Homo sapiens: one gene and its partners. The protein of the gene in region 3 interacts with the protein of the main gene of each other region in a biochemical or structural test. Each region holds a gene or a part of one and is shown on either strand. Other genes may lie near its edges.

Region 1 (3,754 bases), on a different chromosome or scaffold from region 3:
AGCTACTCAGGAGCTGAGGCACGAGAATCGCTTAAACCCGGCAGGCAGAGGTTGCAGTGAGCCGAGATCATACCACTGCACTCCAGCCTGGGCCACAGAGTGAGACCGTGTCAGAAAAAGAAAAAGAAAAAGGGAAAGGGGAAGGGGAAGCAGCCAACGACCACCACTGTGGCCCTGAGCTTAGTGTGGGAGCAGTGTGGCTCTGCCACAGTGGCCGTGACAACTCTCCCCAGGCGTCGGTTCTTGGGGTGTGTTTGGGGTGTCGGGATTGGGACGCCCCACGTAAACACGCTGAGACTTCACAGTCAAATCTGAACCCCTGGTTTCTGCCGGTGTCGGGTCTATCGGGGCTCCTCTGGGCTCAGGGGTTGCCGCCGTCCGCCCGCCAGCTGACCGGGAGCCCAGGGCCGCTCCATCGCCTGGGTGGGTCTCTGGGAATGGAGGGGTAGCTCAGGGCTCAGGCTCTCCCTGCATGGTGACTCCCCAGGCTAGCACCACCCAGTGGACCTGGAACAGCTGCACTGGCCCCCACTGAGGGCAGGACGTAAGTCAGCTGTGCAGCTGCCCCGACCACCATCTCTCCTGCTGGGTGCATCCACAAGGTCAGGCAGCCCCAGAAGGGCCTGAGGGAGAAGCTGTCTCCCTCTGAGGACCCTGGCTTGCCAGCCCCAGCCCCGAATCTCTCCTGGACAAGCACGAGGCCCTGCACACGCCCACGTGGCCTGGCACAGCGCTCGGCCGCTCTGGTCCCCATGTGCCGAGCTCAGCCCCTCTGTGCATCACTGGCTTTCTGTCGGGCTCCCGGGTTCCCGTCTCAGTCCAGGGCACAACGCATGCTCCCGCCACCCGCACTGCCGGCTCACGACAGCCCGACCTGGCCACATACACACTCATCTGCCCCAGCCCTGGCCTCCTCTTGGCCCCCGCTGTCCTGCCCGCAGCGGCCGTGGGGCCTGGTGCCACAGCACTGTCCAGAACCCTCTCTCTGCAGCACCCACTCCAGCGTCGGGGCCTGTGCACGTCGGCCCTGCTGCTGGAACGCCCACCCTAGGGGTTTCAAAGGTCACCTCTCTGCTCCAAGCCTCTGCCCTGTCACAGAGGACAGCCTGGACACTCACTCATATCTGAAATCCGGGTGCCATCGAGGACGCCAAGGGCTGCGACCCAACTCCTGCGTATTGTCAGGGCTCTGGGCTGTCTCTCAGGCCCCCGGCCAGCCCCTCCAGGGCCACCGAAGGCCGGAACCGAGGCTCTGGTCACGAAGGCAAGTGACAGGTGGATCCCGGATATCCAGGGTGGAGGTTGAGCCTCTGCTGGCCGACGGTGGGAGGGGCTGGACCTGGGGGTCTCCAGCCGCCCTCCTCCTCCAAGGGCACAGCCAAGAGACCGCTTGGTCTCGTATTAAATCGGGGCAGCTGCAGGTAGAAACGCCTGGGCAAGGGGGCCTGGTGAAGGAGCTGCCCCACCTTCTCCGGGGGCAGCACGCACTGGGGGCCCCCACAGAGGCCCCATTGGAGCCTCTGGCCCTAGCAGAAGACGGTGAATCCATTCACCTCTCCGTCAGAGAACAGATGCAGGAGGTACGATCACCCGGCATCATCACCATAGCAACAGCTGGCCAGGCAGCCAGGGTAGGGGGGACCCTGCCAGTGCCGGGCTCCACCCATGCACCCCTGCAGCGTGATGGCCTCATCCCCGGGTGGGACCTGGCAGGGCAGCAGAGGCCCCTTCATCCACGGGGCCTGCACGGGGCGCATGTCCTGAGGGCCCAGGGCCAGGCGCATGGAGGGGAGTGGGCTGGCGACCTACAGGCCCCAGATGACTGACAGTGACCAGGGCAGGCAGGCCCCTGGTGACAGTGACTCGGCCCCTGTGGGTGGCAGGGCCCTCGGGAAGCTGTGCACATCAGGAGACCCCAGGGAGAGTCATGGTGCAGTGCTCGGCCTCGGTAGGAGCCCCCGTGCTGGCTACTGTTTTCCTAAAGGGTGCCCAAAGCTTCCCGGCTGATCCACAGTGTGTGGGCCCCGCAGCCCCAGAGGCACGGGCACGTGCGGCGCCTGCACCCCTTTCTTCCCGCCCTCAGCAGCTGCCACCACATCCCACATTCACACCGTCTGTCCCTGGGCCCCACGCACCACACACTCCCAAGACAAGCTGGATGGACGAGGCGTGAGCGAAGCCACTGCCTCAGCCCAGGCTGGGGCCCCGCCTCACACCCCAGGGCGTGCCTCGGCCCAGGCCCCGAACTCTGCCTTCTTCTTCCCAGGTGGCTTCAGGCACCACCACTAGGGACTGGAACCCCACAGGTGCCCATCCGTGCCAGTGCCAGGGGTGCTACGGCTCGCCCGAGGCTCAGAGGAAGGTCCTCATGGTGGCAGAGTTCTAAGTGGGAGGAAATTCAGCACCGGCATCTGCCCGAGGCAGACCCCAGCGCCAGCCGGCCAGAGAGGGCAGCCGACATCCACAGGTTCCCGGGGTATTGCTGGTGCCCGATCACAACGCCAGGCTCCATGTTCACAGGGTGCTGCAGGGAGCCCGTTCCGGAGAACCCAGCTGTGCAGAGCCGCTCCAGGGTGCTGGCCGGACGCTTGAGAGGCAGGGGCAGGCTGTCACTGTCACGGTATCTGGCACAACCGCAGACACACAGAGCAAGCAGCGGCCAGAGACAGACCCAGGCCGTCTTCTGAAGACTCGGGCCAGGCCGCCGCAGGGACCAGGAGAAGACAGGGTGGGCCGGGGGGCAGCTGGGGAGACTTCCCGCCTGGCCCCATCAGTGACACTGGCCGTAGCAGCCCTCACTTCCTGGTGGCTCCCCGCCCACGCCGGCTCTTCCCCGCCACCGTGGGCGGCAGGGCCCAGCACCCCCACCGTCCTCTCACCGCCACTTGGGGACACTGCGGAGGTTGCAGGCGTTCGGGGGTGGGGGGTCGGCAGGCAGAGCTGGAACCACCCTAGGAACCACCCAGAGACGGGGAGGTCAGGGGCAAGGACGGCACGCAGGGCCACCTCCCTGCGCCCGCCTGGTTCCTGGGGGCTCAGTGCCCTCAGCAGCTCTCGCCCACACCCTACAGTCACAGCTCCAGTCAGTGCCTCCTCAGCAGGCTCGAGTCTGGGTCTGCGCAGCCGCCTGTGGCCTGAGCTCCAGCTGGCCTGTCTGGTTCCTGCCGCCACACGCCCCACTCTGGCTGACGCTCCCTTTGCTGCTCAGACACCCAGACACCCTCGTCATCGCCTTTTTTTTTTTTTTTTGGAAGGAGTCTTGCTCTGTCACCCAGGCTGGACTGCAGTGGCACAATCTCGGCTCACTGCAACCTCCGCCTTCCAGGTTCAAGCAATTCTCCCGCCTCAGCCTCCTAAGTCACTGGGACTACAGGTGCCTGCCACCACGCCTGGCCAATCTTTTGTATTTTTAGTAGGGATGGGGTTTTACCATGTTAGCCAGGCTGGTCTCGAACTCCTGACCTCAGGTGATCCGTCCACCTCAGCCTCCCAAAGCGATGGGACCACAGGCGTGAGCCACCGCGCTCGGCCTCATCACAGCCTTTCATGGGGGCAACTGCTGCCCCTGTGCCGTCGTCGCCTGAGCCCCCGACCGCAAGTGTGGCTCCCCGCTCAGGACACCCTCACGAGTCACCAGGAGAGCGGCCAGGTGCCGGCCACTCTGCACACACGTGCCCACCAGATGCCACGGGGAGCGAATCGCATCACTAAACCCACTTGGCAGGTGAGGAGACTGAGGCCAAGGCTGCCCAGC
Region 2 (3,754 bases), on a different chromosome or scaffold from region 3:
CTTGAAAGGAGTGAGGGCAAATATCCCAGAATAAGAGCAGCCTTCCCCCTCACCCATGGCCCCCTGGGTGCTCTGGTAGAAGGAGGAATGGTGAAGGAGATGGTGCTGGAAAGAGAGAAGGGGGAAGATGAGATTTTGATCTTACGTGGAATTGAAATTTTAAACTGGGCTGAAACTGAAAGTGACTGGCAAGGTACAGGATGCCCTAAGGGAACGACAAAGGGATTTGAGAGAGCATAGTGGAGGGCAGCAGTTTGATTTAAAAAATAAAATGATTTTTACTAATCAGTGAGACAACCAAATAAAAAGATAGGGATATGTCTGTTTATATATAATTTCTATGTTACAAATATATAATACACACATATATTTATATAAAATTTCTTGAACTTTGATTTTTAAAATTTTTCAATACTGTCTTCAAACACCAAACACTTAAAAAAATTTTTGACTTTGTAATTGATCAGTCTACACCATTTTTCATAGGCACCCCATCCTATTTATTAATATTTATACCTTAATTATGGGTTCCTTGATTCCATTTTCAGTTTTCTTATGTAATTAAAATGCATAACTTTACAGTCATTGCGATGCTTGAGGTTTTTACATTGCTGTTCGGTGACTGTCCTCCTTTGCTCCAGCAACTTTTGGCAGTGTAGTTGACTATGGAAGATAGACTCAGATCTCTAAAAATCAACATTTTACTATATAAAAGCTTAAAATTGACCAGCGCGGTGGCTCACGCCTGTAATCCCAACACTTTGGGGGGCTGAGGAGGGCAGATCACGAGGTCAGGAGTTCGAGACCATCCTGGCTAACATGGTGAAACCCTGTCTCTACTAAAAATACAAAAAATTAGCCAGGCGTGGTGGGTCACACCTGTAATCCCAGCACTTTGAGGGGGCTGCAGCGGATGGATCACCTGAGGTCAGGAGCTCAAGACCAGCCTTGCCAACATGGTGAAACCCCATCTCTACCAAAAACACAAAAATTAGCCAGGCGTGGTGGCAGATGCCTGTAGTCCCAGCTACTCGGGAAGCTGAGGCAGGAGAATCGCTTGAACCTGGGGGGCAGAGTTGCGGTGAGCCGAGATTGCGCCGCTGCCCTCTAGTCTGGGTGACAGAGTGAGACTCCATCTTAAAAAAATAATAATAATAAATAAATAAATAAATAAATAAATATTTAAAATTGTGTAGATAAAATCATTCTAAACATTATTTCATATTAGCATAGCAGAATCTGAAAATATTTGCATAAATATGACAATTAATATCTTTAATATTGTAAAGCATTTTTACACTTTAGTTAGAAAAAAAGATGAATATACTAGTAGGAAAATAGGGAAGGACATGAGCTGACAGCTAGAGCTTCATAATTTTATGATGTAGTTCACCTTTAAATATTAATAAAGCAATTTTCTTCTCTGTGCCTGATATCTGAGAGTTCTTCTCATTTTCGTTCTTCAGGACAGTTTCTCTACGGAAGACTTCTCCAACTGTCTGTACCAGGACTTTAGAATTCCTCTTAGTCCTGTCCATAAATGTTCATTTTATAAAAATAACACCAAAGTGAGTTACGGGTTCCTCTCCCCACCACGTAAGTTTTTTCCTCTCCTGACCTTCCCTTTTCTCCTTTTTGTTTTCTTTCTTGTTTATAAATCCTACCATACATTATAGGGTAATATATATATTACCTATTATATATATATAAATATTACCTATTTTATATATATATTATATATATAATATATATAAAGTATATATATTACTATTTTATATATATATAGCTATATATATATAGCTTTGTTTATTTATTGGTGAAAAATTGTGGATTTGGTCTAGAACTACCAAGGGAAAAATTTTAATCATCTAAAACTTGAATTTTATAAAATTTTCTTTTTGTTGGGAGGGTAGTTGATGTAGTGCAGATATGGTAAGCAGAACACTTCATGGTTCCTTTCTGCATTTCTTTTAAACAATTTGAGAATATTGTGAAGGTGGAATATATATATCAAGTTGGAAGAATATATCAAGGTTCTTAGGAAGATAACTTTGTTAGGATAAATAACTTTGTTGTTTAAAAAGAAAATGCGTTTGTCAGAGAAGTAGGTAAAGGTAGAGGCTTACATATGCTTGCTTTTTCACTGATCCAGAATCTCTAGGGAATGGCTTTTTTGAAGCTAAGTATTCTATTTTTTGAAATGGCAAATTTGTATGTTGATGAGAAGCCATTTTGGGGCCAGCCTTAAAAGGCAAAAATCAGAAAGCTCCAGGTGCTCAACTACCGTCAGCATCCAGTTCAGTTCCCAGAGTATGTGTCTGAAGTCAGAACTTGGCTATTGCATTATAAAAATAGACCAGGTCCAAGCCTCAAATTCATACAGAGAAGCCTTGTATGGTGTTTCGAGACAGACATCCTGTGATGTTTTTTCTGGGTAGCAGGTGTTGTTCTGGAGCCAGATGTTCTCTTTTTTCTTTTCACTGTGAAAAAGTGTAAGGAAAGAAGATTGTCAACACAATTCCTTTTAGTTGAAATGAGGGCAATAACGTTTGAATATGTTTAATTTGGGGCTCTTGTTATTAAAGTTTATGTTTCGTTGACATGCTCATCTTGAAAAGACTTCTTAAATATTTTATTTTTGTAAAGGACTTGACCAAACACATTACATTTTCCCTTGACCCTGTACTTGGGAAAGTTTTACAGGTTTAAGATGGTACTCAGCTAATTTTTAAAAATGCTCCCCTAACCATGAGAAACTATAATTTCCTATGTTATTTGTGAAGAATGAAAAAGTTGTCCTCTTTTCTCTTTGTAGAACTAAATAAAAATTCAAGTGGAATATATTCTGAAGCTTTGCTTACTACAAATATAGTGCCAATGTACCAGAGTTTTCAAGGTAAATAATGTTAACTCTATATTTGATAATTTTAATGAATTTGTGCACATATAGGCATAATTCATATGTAATAGGACTTATGGTCTAAATTAAATGAATTAATACCAAATACATTCTTAAAGGTTTAACTTTGAGAATACTAGTACACAAAAATTCTACAAATTATTAGAATTATCATGTATTCTAATTGTATAATTGTTTGCAAACAGTTTTGGTGAGAAAGTATGTGATGCGCTTCCTAAAGTTATCCAGCTAATACAGTCTGCTAACACTTATATTAACTTTCATTCGGCTTCCTTATTTAACTTTTTGGAAGTTCTTGATAATTGTCTATGTTTTCAAATGAATAGATTTTACATCATCATTAACTATTGCAGCATTTGACTTTTACAGGAATAAAAATTTAGTTACTTAAATTGATGTATAGAATATCAAAATATAAGCATATAAGGAGTTTTTAGTCTAATTTATATCTAGAATACTTGTGAATATTTCAAAGTTAATATTCAGATATTAATAGGAAATCGGAATAATATGCCTTGTTTGTGTTTGCGATGTTGCTATGCTTAATGATGACATATGATCACAATTTCAACATGATGTACTTGTTCAGGGATGTCTCAAAGAGAGTTGGGTTCAACGTTTGTCTGTGAGTCCTTTCAAAGGCCAAAGCTGAACAATGAATTTTTGGCCTCACACTAAGATTAGAGCCAAGGCTGGGTGTGGTGGCTCATGCTTGCAGTCCCAGCCCTTTGGGGAGTCCAACTCAGAAGGACTGCTTGAGGCCAGGAGTTCAAGATCAGCCTGGGAAACAGTGAGATCTGGTGTCTAGTCTCTACAAAAAATTTTAATTAGCTG
Region 3 (3,025 bases):
TTCTTTATCAGGGATAAGGGAACTATTACTTGATAAATATTTCTGCCCTTTGGAGAGAGCAGCATTACAGATTTGGAAACCAATAAATTTGAGTAGGCTAAAAACTTGGTGATTCAAAGTATGACTCTGTAAACCTGGTCAAGTTCCTTAAACGTTAGTCCCCTCATCTTTTAAGTGTGTACAATGTCTATCACATTGGATTGTTTTAGGAATTAACTAAGTTAGGTCCATGTTGTTTGTTAGTGTCTAGCAAAATTGTAAACACACAATGACTGTTAGCTATGATATCTGAAGGGGTAATTATTAAAGGCTTGGTTCAATTTTAGGCTCCTTTAAGGAACAGTGGATATACTGAGTAACATTTGACGGATGCTAGGAATGAAGTTATATTCTTTTTCTGTTTAATTTCAGATGTACTGGCGAAGAATATTTGGTAAAGCAGGGCATCGATCTCTCACCCTGGGGCTTGTGGAAGAATCACGTGGCCTTGGCTTGTATGATTGTTATTTTCCTCACAATTGCCTACCTGAAATTGTTATTTCTTAAAAAATATTCTTAAATTTCCCCTTAATTCAGTATGATTTATCCTCACATAAAAAAGAAGCACTTTGATTGAAGTATTCAATCAAGTTTTTTTGTTGTTTTCTGTTCCCTTGCCATCACACTGTTGCACAGCAGCAATTGTTTTAAAGAGATACATTTTTAGAAATCACAACAAACTGAATTAAACATGAAAGAACCCAAGACATCATGTATCGCATATTAGTTAATCTCCTCAGACAGTAACCATGGGGAAGAAATCTGGTCTAATTTATTAATCTAAAAAAGGAGAATTGAATTCTGGAAACTCCTGACAAGTTATTACTGTCTCTGGCATTTGTTTCCTCATCTTTAAAATGAATAGGTAGGTTAGTAGCCCTTCAGTCTTAATACTTTATGATGCTATGGTTTGCCATTATTTAATAAATGACAAATGTATTAATGCTATACTGGAAATGTAAAATTGAAAATATGTTGGAAAAAAGATTCTGTCTTATAGGGTAAAAAAAGCCACCGTGATAGAAAAAAAATCTTTTTGATAAGCACATTAAAGTTAATAGAACTTACTGATATTCCTGTCTAGTGGTATAATATCTCAGGAATCTTGGCTGAGGGTTTGGAACTGTGGGTAGAGTAGAGGGCCAGGAGTCCAGTAATAGAATTCTTGCACCATTTCTGGAACATTCTAGCTCTGGGAGGTCACGTAACCTTCTTGGGGTAGTTCAGTGGTTTAGTGGTTTATAATCCAGGTGTGCGTCAGAATCATCTGAGGAACTTTGCTAAAATACAAAAATCTGGCCTAAGTAGCTCCAGATCTACCTTCATAAAGGAATCTGACCACTCCTGGATTTGGTAATTTCCAAGTTCTGAAAATTTTACTTAGGATTTAATAACTATTAACATCTGTCCCTACATAGGTTTTCTTTCCTACTTATATACCTTATGTTCTCTTCATTCTAACCTTCATCAGTAATAGGGAAATGTTTTAATTTTATTTTTTTAGTTGAAGGGTAATGTACCAAAAAATATAGTTCAGTGAATTAAAATGAACACACATGTGCAACCATCAATTCAGGTCAAGAAATAGAAGATTGTAGCACACAAAAGCCTACTCAGCCATTCTCCCAGTCACTACTTCCTTCCTTACCCCTGGGTTATTTTTGAAATGACACTTGATGTATTTCCCTCTGTTGCTGTTATGAGAACATTGCTACAGCCAAGTGTTGTGTTTCTGTGTGCATAGGTTGATACTTAATTATCTCCCCACTTTTTAATAAACTTTTAATTTGGAAATAATTTTAGATTGACAGAAAAGTTGCAAAGATAGTGAGGAAAGTTCCTGTCTACTCTTTGCTCAGCTTCCCTTAATGTTAACATTTTATATAGCAAGATGCATTTGTCAAAGCTAACAAGTTAACATTGGTACAATCACTGTTAATTAAACTGCACACAATATTCAGATTTCACCACTTTTCCACTAATATTCTTTCATTGTTCTAGGATTCAATTCAGGAGACCACATTTCATCTAGCCCTCTTTTTTAAAAGTAAATACTTTTCAGCACTTACAGGAGTTAACTGAGCTGGGGCATCATGGTGTATAGACGCCCTGACACTGGTCATCTTGGAATTCATTTAGTTTGTCAGTGGGTGCCCTGACATTCTGTCACAACATCAATTTGGGAACATGGCATTATATTTTTATCTTTGAACTTTTTTCTTTTTGGATGACATTTGATTAATGCGTCATCTTGGAACACATTATCTTTTTTCTTGGTTATGTGATCAGGAAGATTAATCAGTTTTTCCTGTTCTTGGTATAATTCCTGCTTTTCACATACCTGTCCCTTACAGTTCTCTATATATACCCTTCCCTTATTACACAGAGAGAAATATCTATCTATACTTTTTACACAAAATATACTTCAAAAGAAACAAAACAGCCACAATTATTAACTTTTTAAATAAATGAGAATTTAATTATATCCTATTTTATGTATTCTTTTTTTATATTAAAATTACCTTTATATGCTTTTGTTGTGGTAGGAACCAGATAACATAAAATTTACCATCTTAACCATTTTAAAATTAAGGACTTTTTTTTTTTTTTTTTTTTTGAGATAGAGTCTCGCTTTGTCGCCCAGGCTGTGGTGCAGTGGCGCGATCTCGGCTCACTGCAAGCTCCGCCTCCCGGGTTCATGCCATTCTCCTGCCTCAGCCTGTAATGGCTGGGACTACAGGCTCCCGCTACCACGCCCGGCTAATTTTTTTTTTTTTGTATTTTTAGTAGAGACAGGGTTTCACTGTGTTAGTCAGGATGGTCTCCATCTCCTGACCTCGTGATCCACCCGCTTCGGCCTCCCAAAGTGCTGGGATTACAGGCCTGAGCCAGCGCGCCTGGCCAGGAACTTTTTTTAAAGTATGGTTTATTTTCTTATAAAGTAGAAATGTACTTAAGGATATAGATATCCATATATATTATATGT

The links.
Region 1: of the proteins of ABCG2 (region 3) and RNF126, one has a biochemical effect on the other in vitro, tested with the Homo sapiens proteins (one study listed by BioGRID).
Region 2: the proteins of ABCG2 (region 3) and ENPP1 form a complex in vitro, tested with the Homo sapiens proteins (one study listed by IntAct).

The regions. Positions count from the first base shown.
Region 1 is NC_000019.10:656,534-660,287, forward strand, and holds part of RNF126 (E3 ubiquitin-protein ligase RNF126), read right to left. Parts: intron 1-3,754. UniProt on the Homo sapiens protein: E3 ubiquitin-protein ligase that mediates ubiquitination oF target proteins. Depending on the associated E2 ligase, mediates 'Lys-27'-, 'Lys-29'-, 'Lys-48'- and/or 'Lys-63'-linked polyubiquitination of substrates.
Region 2 is NC_000006.12:131,880,879-131,884,632, forward strand, and holds part of ENPP1 (ectonucleotide pyrophosphatase/phosphodiesterase family member 1), read left to right. Parts: intron 1-1,466; coding exon 1,467-1,596; intron 1,597-2,815; coding exon 2,816-2,896; intron 2,897-3,754. UniProt on the Homo sapiens protein: Nucleotide pyrophosphatase that generates diphosphate (PPi) and functions in bone mineralization and soft tissue calcification by regulating pyrophosphate levels.
Region 3 is NC_000004.12:88,089,768-88,092,792, reverse strand, and holds the end of ABCG2 (broad substrate specificity ATP-binding cassette transporter ABCG2), read left to right. Parts: intron 1-411; coding exon 412-559; 3' UTR 560-2,524; downstream 2,525-3,025.